Linked DNA regions of Homo sapiens. The protein of the gene in region 2 interacts with the protein of the main gene of each other region in a biochemical or structural test. Each region holds a gene or a part of one and is shown on either strand. Other genes may lie near its edges.

Evidence for each region. Proteins that work in one complex are often made in the same cells at the same time.
Region 1: the proteins of TSC22D3 (region 2) and NFKB1 form a complex in vitro, tested with the Homo sapiens proteins (one study listed by BioGRID).
Region 3: the proteins of TSC22D3 (region 2) and RAF1 form a complex in vitro, tested with the Homo sapiens proteins (one study listed by BioGRID).

The regions. Positions count from the first base shown.
Region 1 is NC_000004.12:102,602,359-102,605,858, forward strand, and holds part of NFKB1 (nuclear factor NF-kappa-B p105 subunit), read left to right. Parts: intron 1-156; exon of another isoform or gene 157-628; intron 629-3,500.
Region 2 is NC_000023.11:107,765,788-107,769,287, reverse strand, and holds part of TSC22D3 (TSC22 domain family protein 3), read left to right. Parts: intron 1-3,500. UniProt on the Homo sapiens protein: Protects T-cells from IL2 deprivation-induced apoptosis through the inhibition of FOXO3A transcriptional activity that leads to the down-regulation of the pro-apoptotic factor BCL2L11.
Region 3 is NC_000003.12:12,605,118-12,608,617, forward strand, and holds part of RAF1 (RAF proto-oncogene serine/threonine-protein kinase), read right to left. Parts: intron 1,183-3,500; coding exon 1,084-1,182; intron 1-1,083. UniProt on the Homo sapiens protein: Serine/threonine-protein kinase that acts as a regulatory link between the membrane-associated Ras GTPases and the MAPK/ERK cascade, and this critical regulatory link functions as a switch determining cell fate decisions including proliferation, differentiation, apoptosis, survival and oncogenic transformation.

The DNA.
Region 1 (3,500 bases), on a different chromosome or scaffold from region 2:
TCTCTACTAGAAATACAAAAAAAAAAAAAAAATTAGCCAGGCATGGTGGCAGGCGCCTGTAGTCCCAGCTACTCGGGAGGCTGAGGCAGGAGAATGGTGTGAACCTGGAGGCTGAGCTTGCAATGAGGCGAGATCGCGCCACTGCACTCCAGCCTGGGTGACAGAGTGACGCTCTGTCTCAAAAAAAAAAAAAAAAGTGTGCTTTAAAGTGCATTTAAAGCAAAACTACTAAAACGTTTACATGTGGCTCTTAATAGTTTTTACCTGTGACTAGGTAAAAATTAATAGGTTTCCTGATAGGGGAAAATGACCATTTTTCATTCAATATAAGTCACCATTAGGCTTCTTCACTGGCTCTTGTGCTTCTTGTCAAAGGAAAAGTAAAGTTAGTGACTCTTCACTGCCTGTTAATATAAAATAACTAGTATGAAGTGTGATTGTAGATTTACATTTAAAGGATGTCTTCTTGAAACTTTCATACCGTTTTGGGGTCATTGGTATCCGTAAGGTCATTTTGCCTGTAAAGCTTGATTCTCGCAGACTTTTGGCTGATTGTTCCTTGTAGTCATCACAAATCTATGAATAAAACCAGGAATGGGACATTGTAGCTTGTCAGTCCTCTTTTCAAACCCTGCTTAACAGTCATATTCAAGGAATTACTTATTTTATGTTTATAAATAGGATCTGCAAAGGACACAGCACAACAGGATTAGTAGCTGTGATTTTTTTTTGGAGACAGAGTCTCACTCTGTCACCCAGACTGGAATGCAGTGGCGCGATCTCGGCTCACTGCAACCTCCACCTCCCAGGTTCAAGCGATTCTTCTGCCTCAGCCTCCTGAGTAGCTGGGATTACAGGCGTGCACCACCACACCCAGCTAATTTTTGTATTTTTAGTAGAGATGGGGTTTCACCATGTTGGTCTGGCTGGTCTTGAACTCCTGATCTCGTAATCTGCCAGCCTCGGCCTCCCAAAGTGCTGGGATTACAGGCATGAGCCACTGCGTCTGGCCAGTAGCTATGATTTTTTTTTTATATCCTAAACTCTTTACTGTATCATTTGGTTACATATGTTGAGACTCTCCAGTGTGTTAGAGACAAAAACCCTGAAACCGCCACCATTGATACTTCTATCCCTTCTGATTTGGGGACTCTCAGAAGACTATACGTCCATTTTTCCCCTACCTTACCACCAGTCTGATTAATGGGCAGTGATTCTGGCTTCCCTAGTATGCCTTCTAGGTGTCAAACACACACCCAATGGCAACTTTGATTTGAGAATTAGAAACTGCTAAGATTTGAACTCTTGATTATCTGTTGTAAAGGTTCTCTAGTAACTATTCTTAATGGAAAATGATACAGTTCTCTAAATAATTTGGATTATTTGACAGTTAAGCATTCTTCCCAAATACCTTTCACTAATCTAAGTACATTTCTGTGACCATCTGTCATGATCAAATTCCTCTCCCCACCCACCCTCTAGAAACACACTCAAAATAGTCCAAGTGCACCGAGTTAGGATTTTTTATGAAAATATTCTCTTTAAGCCTTTTTCTCCTTTCATTCTCCTTCCCCCAACATAGACAACCACTCTATCGTGTTTGGTATGGATTGTTTTATTTGTGTATGTTCCCATAAAACATTATTGGAGGGTTTTATGTATTTTTATGTTTTTAATTATTATACATATCATGTATATTCATAGTTTTAAAAATGGTACAGAAGAATCTACATTGGAAAGTCAAAGTTGCCCACCCTGACAATGCCCAGGTCTGCTAGCACAAATGTCACTATTGTGTTTATAGGTAGTTTTTCAAGTACTGGATACAAATGTACGTATACTTGAAATACATAGATATTTTCATATACTCTCACATACAATCCACATTATATTAAATGTACTTCTCTTGCCTTGCATTAACCTTTAAAATTTTTTTAATTTAATTTAATTATAGATTCAAAGGAGGTTACAAAAACGTACTAGGAAGTCCTAGTATTTACTGCAAGGAAACCAGAGGTCTCTTCACCCAGTTTCCCCCAATGGTAACATCCTGCATAACCTCAGAACAGTGTCAAAACCTGGAAATAGACGTTGATACAATCCACAGATCTTAATCAGATTTCACCAGTTTTACACACACTTGTGTGTATCTGTATAGTTCTTTGTGCATATATTTTTTAAATGCCTAAGTGGCATTGTGCTACATGTTACTGTATTTCTGCCTTCACTGCTTATCCACACAGTTCTACATATAGCTAGTTTGTTGTTTCAGCTCCTGAAGAGAATCTAGTATGGGTCTTTCACCTATAACATCCTTGTTTCCTAGTAGTAGACATTTAACCAACTTCTAACTTCCTACCTCAGTAGATAATACTGCAGTGACTGTCCTCACTTATGTCCTCTTGTGGATTTGTGTCAGAATTTCACCCAGATACATCTGCAAGAGTTGGGTTGCTGGGACATTTGTATATTTGGCTTTCCAGAATGTCTGTGTAAGTCCCCATGCCCACAGCCATAGCATGAAGGTATAATTGTTTAAGATATAATCCTTGGATTTAAGAACTAGAAGGTTTATATCATGGAAAACCATTGATTGGACTGTGGAAGAAAATATTAAAAAAAAAAAACCTCTCCGACTCATAAGATATTTTTTAATTAAATTCAAGCTACAGATAATTTATAATTCCTGAATGGTATACTATCTTATAATTTCAGATCCTTTTTTCACAATCTCATTCTCTTTCCTTTTCCCATCTCCCCAAGTAGCATTTCAGAAAACACAGATTAGTAAACACAGTTTCCATTGACTTATTTTTGAGAAGAAGGCTCTTGGCAACAATATCTAAAGTTTTGAGGACATCACTTCATTTCAGGCCAGGTTGATAGTCCTAGAAAATGAAAGAAATAAGGGCAAGTAATAATTTGGCAAAAAAAAAGGGTCTTGTATAGTAAATAATCACTGTAGTTGAGATTTAGACTACCCTCCCATCATTCATCCTGCCAGTTATCATGTGCTGTGGTCACCTACACAGCTAGGAGGTTGGTGGCTCACCTGCTGCTGTAGCCAGTAACTGCTCAATGAAAAGGGAATTTTAGGCAAATTGTCACAAGACTGGCTGGATGTCATAGTTAGGCTCCTGTGAAATAAACTGATTTGTATAAAGATACATTGCTGTTCTCTGTCAGTGAACTCAGTTATTTGAAAGATACGTTTGTGATTGTATTTGTCTTACTCATTTTTGAAAACACACAGTTTGCAAAACATCTTATTTGCATTCACCGAAGTAATACCTTGTGGGCAGGATAGTCAAATGGACTATTTAAGTACCTATTAGGTATCAGCAGCTCACCTTTTTTATTCAGCTGAGCCCCCTTGGTGAGATACTTGTATTATCCTGGTTATGTTATTTAGAATCTTATAATACCTTTTATGAAATGGGTGTAGGAAAGCTATATTGACTGGTCTCAGGAGCCAGTCCATGGGACAGTATTTTTTAATT
Region 2 (3,500 bases):
GATATACCTCTTTTGCTTATCCATTCATCTGTCAGTGGACACTTAGGTTGTTGCCCTCTTTTGGCTATTATGAAGAATGCTGCTATGAACACTGGTGTACAAGTATCTGTTCAAGTCCCTGCTTTTAATTCTTTGGGGTATATACCTAGGAGTGGCATTGCCCAGCACCTACTTTTCAACACAATTTTGTGGTCTACTGCTCGTAGTCAACACATACGTAGGAACCTGTCATAAAATGAGCAAATGTCTCAGGGCATTCCTTGAGGAGAATGCTCCCTCTCTAAGCCAGCTGCTGGTGCTAGTGATTACAACGAAGAGAAAGCTACAAAGTTTGGCAAAGTGATGGTGCTGCCTGGGAATGGACTTTTTATGGGGGAAATGACATGCTTTGGAGATTGCATCCATGAGTTGGAGACTGGCAAAAGTTTTAGTGTGTATCTCTCATGAATGGCCAAGGTCTAGCATACCTTTTTAAAGAGTAACATGTGACACCATTACTTGCCATTAACTACTTTGTATGGATTTGTTTATCAGACCTCTGGTCATGGTGACAGCCCACTGGGAATAGGGTCCTATGGGACTGGAATGTGGCAAAGCCAACTTTGGAGGAGAGAGGTAGAGAGATGGGGCTGGAGTCCATGGAAGGCCTAGCTTGGGCTGTTACAGCACGGGGCCTGGACAGCATGAGAGTTCAAAAGATCTGTTTGGAAAGTTCATGCTCTTAAAGAAAGGTGGGAAGCACAGAGCTTGAATTTCATCTACTCCTCAGTTTTTGCCAGGAGTGGACTATTATTTACTGAGTCCACACCTCAGCAAATAATGCTTTCCAGGGTGACCTTAGTTTTCTTCCCTGCCTGAAGAGAAGGTTAACACTCCTGCTTATATTTGCACTTGCAGATAATCCAACAAGCTCTCCATTCCAGGTAGAGGGTTGGCTCCTTTCCAGATCAGGTACTGAAGGCCAGGGAGTCTGGGTAAAATGGAGATGGATGTATCTGGCCAAGACTGCCAAGACCTCTAGGCATCCCGGGTGATGGAACCCTGCAGAGTTCTTGCCCCCACCTGGTGGGTGGGTTGGTTGGGAGGAATGAGTTTGGCCATGTCTGCACCTGGTGGTGGCTGTTGCGCTGTTTGCTCATCGTGATTCTGCTCCTACCTGAACTTTCTCTTCTTCTTATGTAAGCCATCCCTAGAGATAACTGTAAAGCCATAATCTGCCATGGCTGGCTGGGCTTATATAACAAATTGGTTGGTATCGTGCAATAGCCTCTTGAACCCTGGAGAAACCAATGTGCTAAGTTGAGACTAAAACATGGGTTCATTTGATGGGGTATTTTGTGTGCTCAGTGAACTCAGGGGAGAGGAGTCCATGACCACAGGGGTCAGAAAGATGAAATTTCCTTTTAAATAAAGAGAACAATAATGGCCCAGAACATACTGTGCTGTCCCAAAGTCTGCAATAATGGGACAAGGGTTAGGGCATTGCTGTAGCACCACAGCTTTGGCAGAAAAGGCCCTCCACAGAACCCCATGGGCTAGGAGGAGCCCCATGAAGGCCAGAAGGCTAGATCCCAGTTTCAGGGCAACCTAGGTTTGATGAAGAGTCAGGTCAGGGAAAATGTCTTTTGGAGGCCACTGTCTACCATGCTGAAATCCAGCTTAACTAGAGTTGGAGTGGGGCTAAGATGCGATCTGTGAGAGCAGAAAGCAAGCTTTTCTCGATTCTATTCCAGGCAGGAGGGAATTTCATCAGTAGGCAAGGCAAGTTCACTTGTACCTTCTAGCTGAAAATTCCTGCCCCAAAGTAGCTGTGGCCCTTCTGGAAACTGTATAAGAGGCATTAAGATCCCAGCCAGCACAGAAGACTGAATGGGAAGCTTCCCATTGTGCAGACACTAGCCCGAGGGAAAACAAGAGCTGGAAGCAGGCTGGATCACTGATGATCCAGGCTCACCATTGGCCTTCCTCTCCTGGGAGCCACTTTCCTCAAATAGGTCCAGCCAGAAATCGGGCCCCTGCCTATGGACAGAGCACACAGGGACCTTCCCCATCCTTCCTCGAAGGAAGACTTTACTCACAGAATAGGCTTGAGTATTCAACCCACTTCTTCTAATCTTCTCTTCAGGGGAGATGGAGAGCAGCTGTTCACAGCTTAGGGGTCTGGCCAGGATTCCCGCTCCGTGCTATCTAGGCTGGTGATTGGCTAGAGCTATCCCTAAGGAAGAAGGGGGTGAGAAGTGAGAGGAAAGGAAGCGACTCCAGCAGCTCCTTCCTGGCTTACCCCACTCCCAAGACACCCCTCCTTCAGCGCTGCCGTTTAGCCTCACTCCCAGACTAGGCTGGGCCTAGGCCAGCCTGAGGGCCCTGACTCATAACTAGCACATCTTATGTAACAGCCAGGTTACTGAGGCATCACACTTCTGCTTGCTCAGTGGTAGGCTTCCCTGGGGACAGGCATTTGGAAGCCTGCTGGGGGTCCAAGTCAAGCTCATCATACTTCCCAAGGAAAAGCCTACTCTCCCCAGTGTCAGGCAAGCAGTCTGCTCAGAGGCAAATGCCAGGCAGCAAAGCCTGACCCGGTCCCACACTCAGCCTCCACACTCAGCAGTAAATGTAAGCAGACAGGCAAGCTGGAGTGGACTTAATTTGGCTTGAGGCATTTTGGAGGTGGCAGGGAGGAACCTACTATCACCTGATAATGCACTGCTAAAGAAACTGCGTGGTGCATGGAGAGGCCCCAGAACAGGTCGCAGAAGTCCCTCTTCCTTTTGTATCTGCTTGTTGGTTCAGAAACTACTGGGTGGGTTGGGGTGGGGGGAGTTGTTGGGGGGGGGGCGGAAACTCCAGGCTGACTGACACCAGGTGAAAGGGTTTACCGGAAGGTGGAGGAGCTGTTTAAAGGAAGGCCTTTCAAGAGCCAATTCCCAGTCCACGCTCCATGAAGTCTCAAAGTCCCCAGGTTGACCTGAATTCACAGTGATTCTTAGCTCTCTGCCTGGCCTATTCAGAAAATTACATTACCGGCTTAGTGGAACTGAGCCCCCAGTGAAGTCAGTATTGCCAGATTCTATGACAGATTTCTCTAATAACAAATGTGACTATCTACAGCACAGAATACCCCCATCAATCTAATATTCCACTAGCTCAAGGTTTGTAACTAAACCAATAGCTCCTCTTCTTCTCTTCCTTTGTCTTTTCCCCAGCCTGTCTCACGTGTGTTGCCATCAAGTAAATGGCTCACAGGCTGTGAGTAGGTGGGGACACTGCTCTCCACTCCAAGAAATAGAGGAGAAACAGGGAAACAAAGTCAAAAAGGTGGTGTGGGAATTACCAGCAGGCATGATTTGTATCCAAAGCTGACTCATAAGTTCTTGGACAAGCTCAAGACTACCATCTCAGGGCTCAGAAGAGCTTGGCACCCTTAGTCCCCCAGATCACAGAATCCAGTGAAAATTAGGGGACCTGAGATGGAGATGCAGAATTTTCCTTTGTGGGACTCC
Region 3 (3,500 bases), on a different chromosome or scaffold from region 2:
TTCAAATTATCAAGAAAAATAAAAGCCATACAGAAATATATATCCAGATATATGCAAATTCCTTATTCTAAGATATGCTGCGTTTAATATTTCCATAGTATTTTCACATTAAACATTATCTGATTACACATTATGTGTGTGTGTGTGTGTGTGTGTGTGTGTGTGTATACATAATATATTTTTTTTTGGAGACAGAGTCTTGCTCTGTCACCAAGGCTGGAGTGCAGTGGTGCCATCTCAGCTCACTGCCTACCACGTTCAAGATTCTCCTGCTTCAGCCTCCCAAGTACCTGGGCCAAAAGGCACATATCACCACACCCACCCAGTTTTTTGTATTTTTAGTAGAGATGGGGTTTCACCATGTTGGCCAGGCTAGTCTGGAACTCCTGACCTCAAGTGGTCCATCTGCCTCGGCCTCCCAAAGTGCTGGGATTACAGGTGTGAGCTACCGTGCCTGGCCTAAAGTAAGATATTTTGGATGTAGATTTTACTTTAGGTTTCAAATTCATGTGTGTTAACACTGAGCAGTAGATAAACGCAACAAAACTGATTATAAAGCTGGAAAACAGAGTAAAGAAAGACAAGTTATATGCAAACTCAGAGACACATGAGAAACAATATTTATGCTGAAAATCTAATTAAATGTTTTTAAAGACACTAGTCTATTTAAATACATGGTTTTAGCAAATGCATCGGCCACAACATGCATTTCAAAGTTAAGGGTTTTATTTTTATCAAATCACTGTATTAAGTTTTAGGACCCTTTCCATTGAGGTTGAACTCAGTACATACTGAGGAAAGCAGAATCTCAAGCTCTTTAAAATGTAATGACATATTAAGAAATATGCTATGATAACAGAAGAAGCTACAGTCAAAGTCACTTTCCAGAATGTAAGACCTACAGGTCCATAAACAGAAATTTCTACCTTTTCTGTACCACCAGTATCAAGTTCCACAGAAGCAGCAAGGGGTTTCCACGTAGAGAGGAGGGAATGCGAAGAAACTCTTATTTTTTGTCTTCAAGCTTCCAACCCCACCACCCCAAATAACTTTCTAAAAGAAAAGCTATAGGTAAAAAATTACCTAACAGGCATCCTGGAAACAGACTCTCGCATACGACGCATAGTCAAAGAAGGTAGTGCTGGGACTCCACTATCACCAATAGTGGAATTTGGAAACAATCTAAACAAAAGCAGGGAAAGACTGGTTTTTAGGCTTGCAGTAATCTTACAGAGACAATCAGCATGCCTTGCTTTTGCAAACTCAGAGCTACTAAAACTGAACTTTTCCCAGTCACATTTTCCTCAACTGTTTTACATTACCTAGAATAAAGGGAACAATATTCCAAATAACTGGATTTGAATGATTATTGAATGTGAATAATACTGACCTGCCAATAAACATACAGGCTCCTGTGTGCTTTTTCTTTTTCTTTTTTTTTAAGATGGAGTCTCACTCTGTTGCCCAGGCTGGAGTGCAGAGGTGTAATGGCGGCTCACTGCAACCTCCACCTCCCGGGTTCTCCTGCCTCAGCCTCCCAAGTAGCTGGGATTACAGGCACACACCACCATGCCCAGCTAATTTTCGTATTTTTTTTTTAATTATACTTTAAGTTTTAGGGTACATGTGCACAACATGCAGGTTTGTTACATAGGTATACATGTGCCATGTTGGTGTGCTGCACCCAGTAACTTGTCATTTAACATTAGGTGTCTCTCCTAATGCTATCCCTTCCCCCAATTTTTGTATTTTTAGCAGAGACGGGGTTTCACTATGTTGGCCAGGCTGGTCTCGAACTCCTGACCTCAGGTGATTCACCTGCCTTGGCCTCCCAAAGTGCTGGGATTACAGGCGTGAGCCACCGCGCCCGGCCCAGTGTGCATTTCTAGGAAATACTGGTCCTGTGTCTAGCTATATCAAAATAATATTTTTCAAACTACAGTATAACATTTCACAAACTATGTCACACACAGCTTCTCTGGAAACATTCCATCTTGAAAATGCATAGATAAAAGACTAAAATAGAAGGAATAAATCACAGAAAAGTGAGTAATTAGGCACCTTTTTTCCATGAGGTGGGCACTTGTGCTTAGTAATTTCACAGGTTATGTCAGCAAGCCTCATAAGAACAATGCAAGGAAGGTAATATCCCCTTTATTCAGATGCATGAACGAAAACTCAGATGTGGTTATGGTTAATGACAACACTGAGATTTTGACATATGTCTGTTAGACTCAAAAGCTTGTGCCGCCGGATGCGGTGGCTCACACCTGTAACCACAACACTTTGGAAGGCCAAGGCGGACAGATTGCTTGAGCTCAGGAGTTCGAGACCAGCCTGGGCAACATGCTGAAACCCCGTCTCTAGAAAAAATACAAAAATTAGCTAGGCATGATGGCATACACTTGTAGTCCCAGCTACTCAGGAGGCTGAGGTAGGAGGATTACTTGAACCCGAGAGGTCGAGGCTACAGTGAGCTGTGATCATGCCACTGCACTCCACTGTGGGAGACAGAGCGAGACCCTGTCTTTAAAAAATAATAATAAAAAAAAAGGCTGGGCGTGGTGGCTCATGCCTGTAATCCCAGCACTTTGGGAGGCCGAGGTGGGCAGATCATGAGGTCAAGAGATCGAGACCATCCTGGCCAAGATGGTGAAACCTCATCTCTACTAAAACTACAAAAATTAGCTGGGCGTGGTGGTGTGTGCCTGTAGTCTGAGCTACTCGGGAGGCTGAGGCAGGAGAATCACTTGAACCTGGGAGGCAGAGGTTGCAGTGAGCCGAGATCATGCCACTGTACTCCAGCCTAATGACAGAAAGAGACTTGTCTCCAAAAAAAAAAAAAAAAAAAAAAAAGGGTGGGGGACAAAAATAAGATAAATTTTAAAAGCTTGTGCCATTTGTGCTACTCAAGCTCTCATCACAAAATCAATACGTAAGTGACCATGAAAGCAAAAACATTTTCATCATGGTCTAATAATAACACTCCCTTGGTTTCTCTAGTACTGTCAAAAAAGGACAAAACTTTTAAACTTTTCATATACCTAGTTACAGTTTTTAAAAGGCAGTTTGGACCATGTACTTTTAATGTAAACTTTAAATTCTTTAATAACATTTTATCTATATGAAATATATTGTCTCCTGAAAGAAACAAGAATCTTTCAAGATTTTATATTCAAACAATTTTAAGTCCAAACAACTAAGTTTTCTCCAGTTTGAAGTGAAGAAAATAGCATCAACGGTGCTTTCTGCTCCTTCTCAATGTCAAAGGCTCATTCAGCATATTCAACAAAATACAGAGCAGTGTCTACTAGCAACCCCAGTAGATAATACTATTAAGAGCGAAAAGCAAAAAATCTTCTTGTTTTCATATCCTTTTGCTCCTTTCCTTACTGAATCACAGTCACAGTATGTCAATCTCAATTTGACAGATAACAAGTCCTACTCCTACCTGCTCATTCTGGAGTATGAATGCCACCAAACCTAGCTAGTTTCAGAAT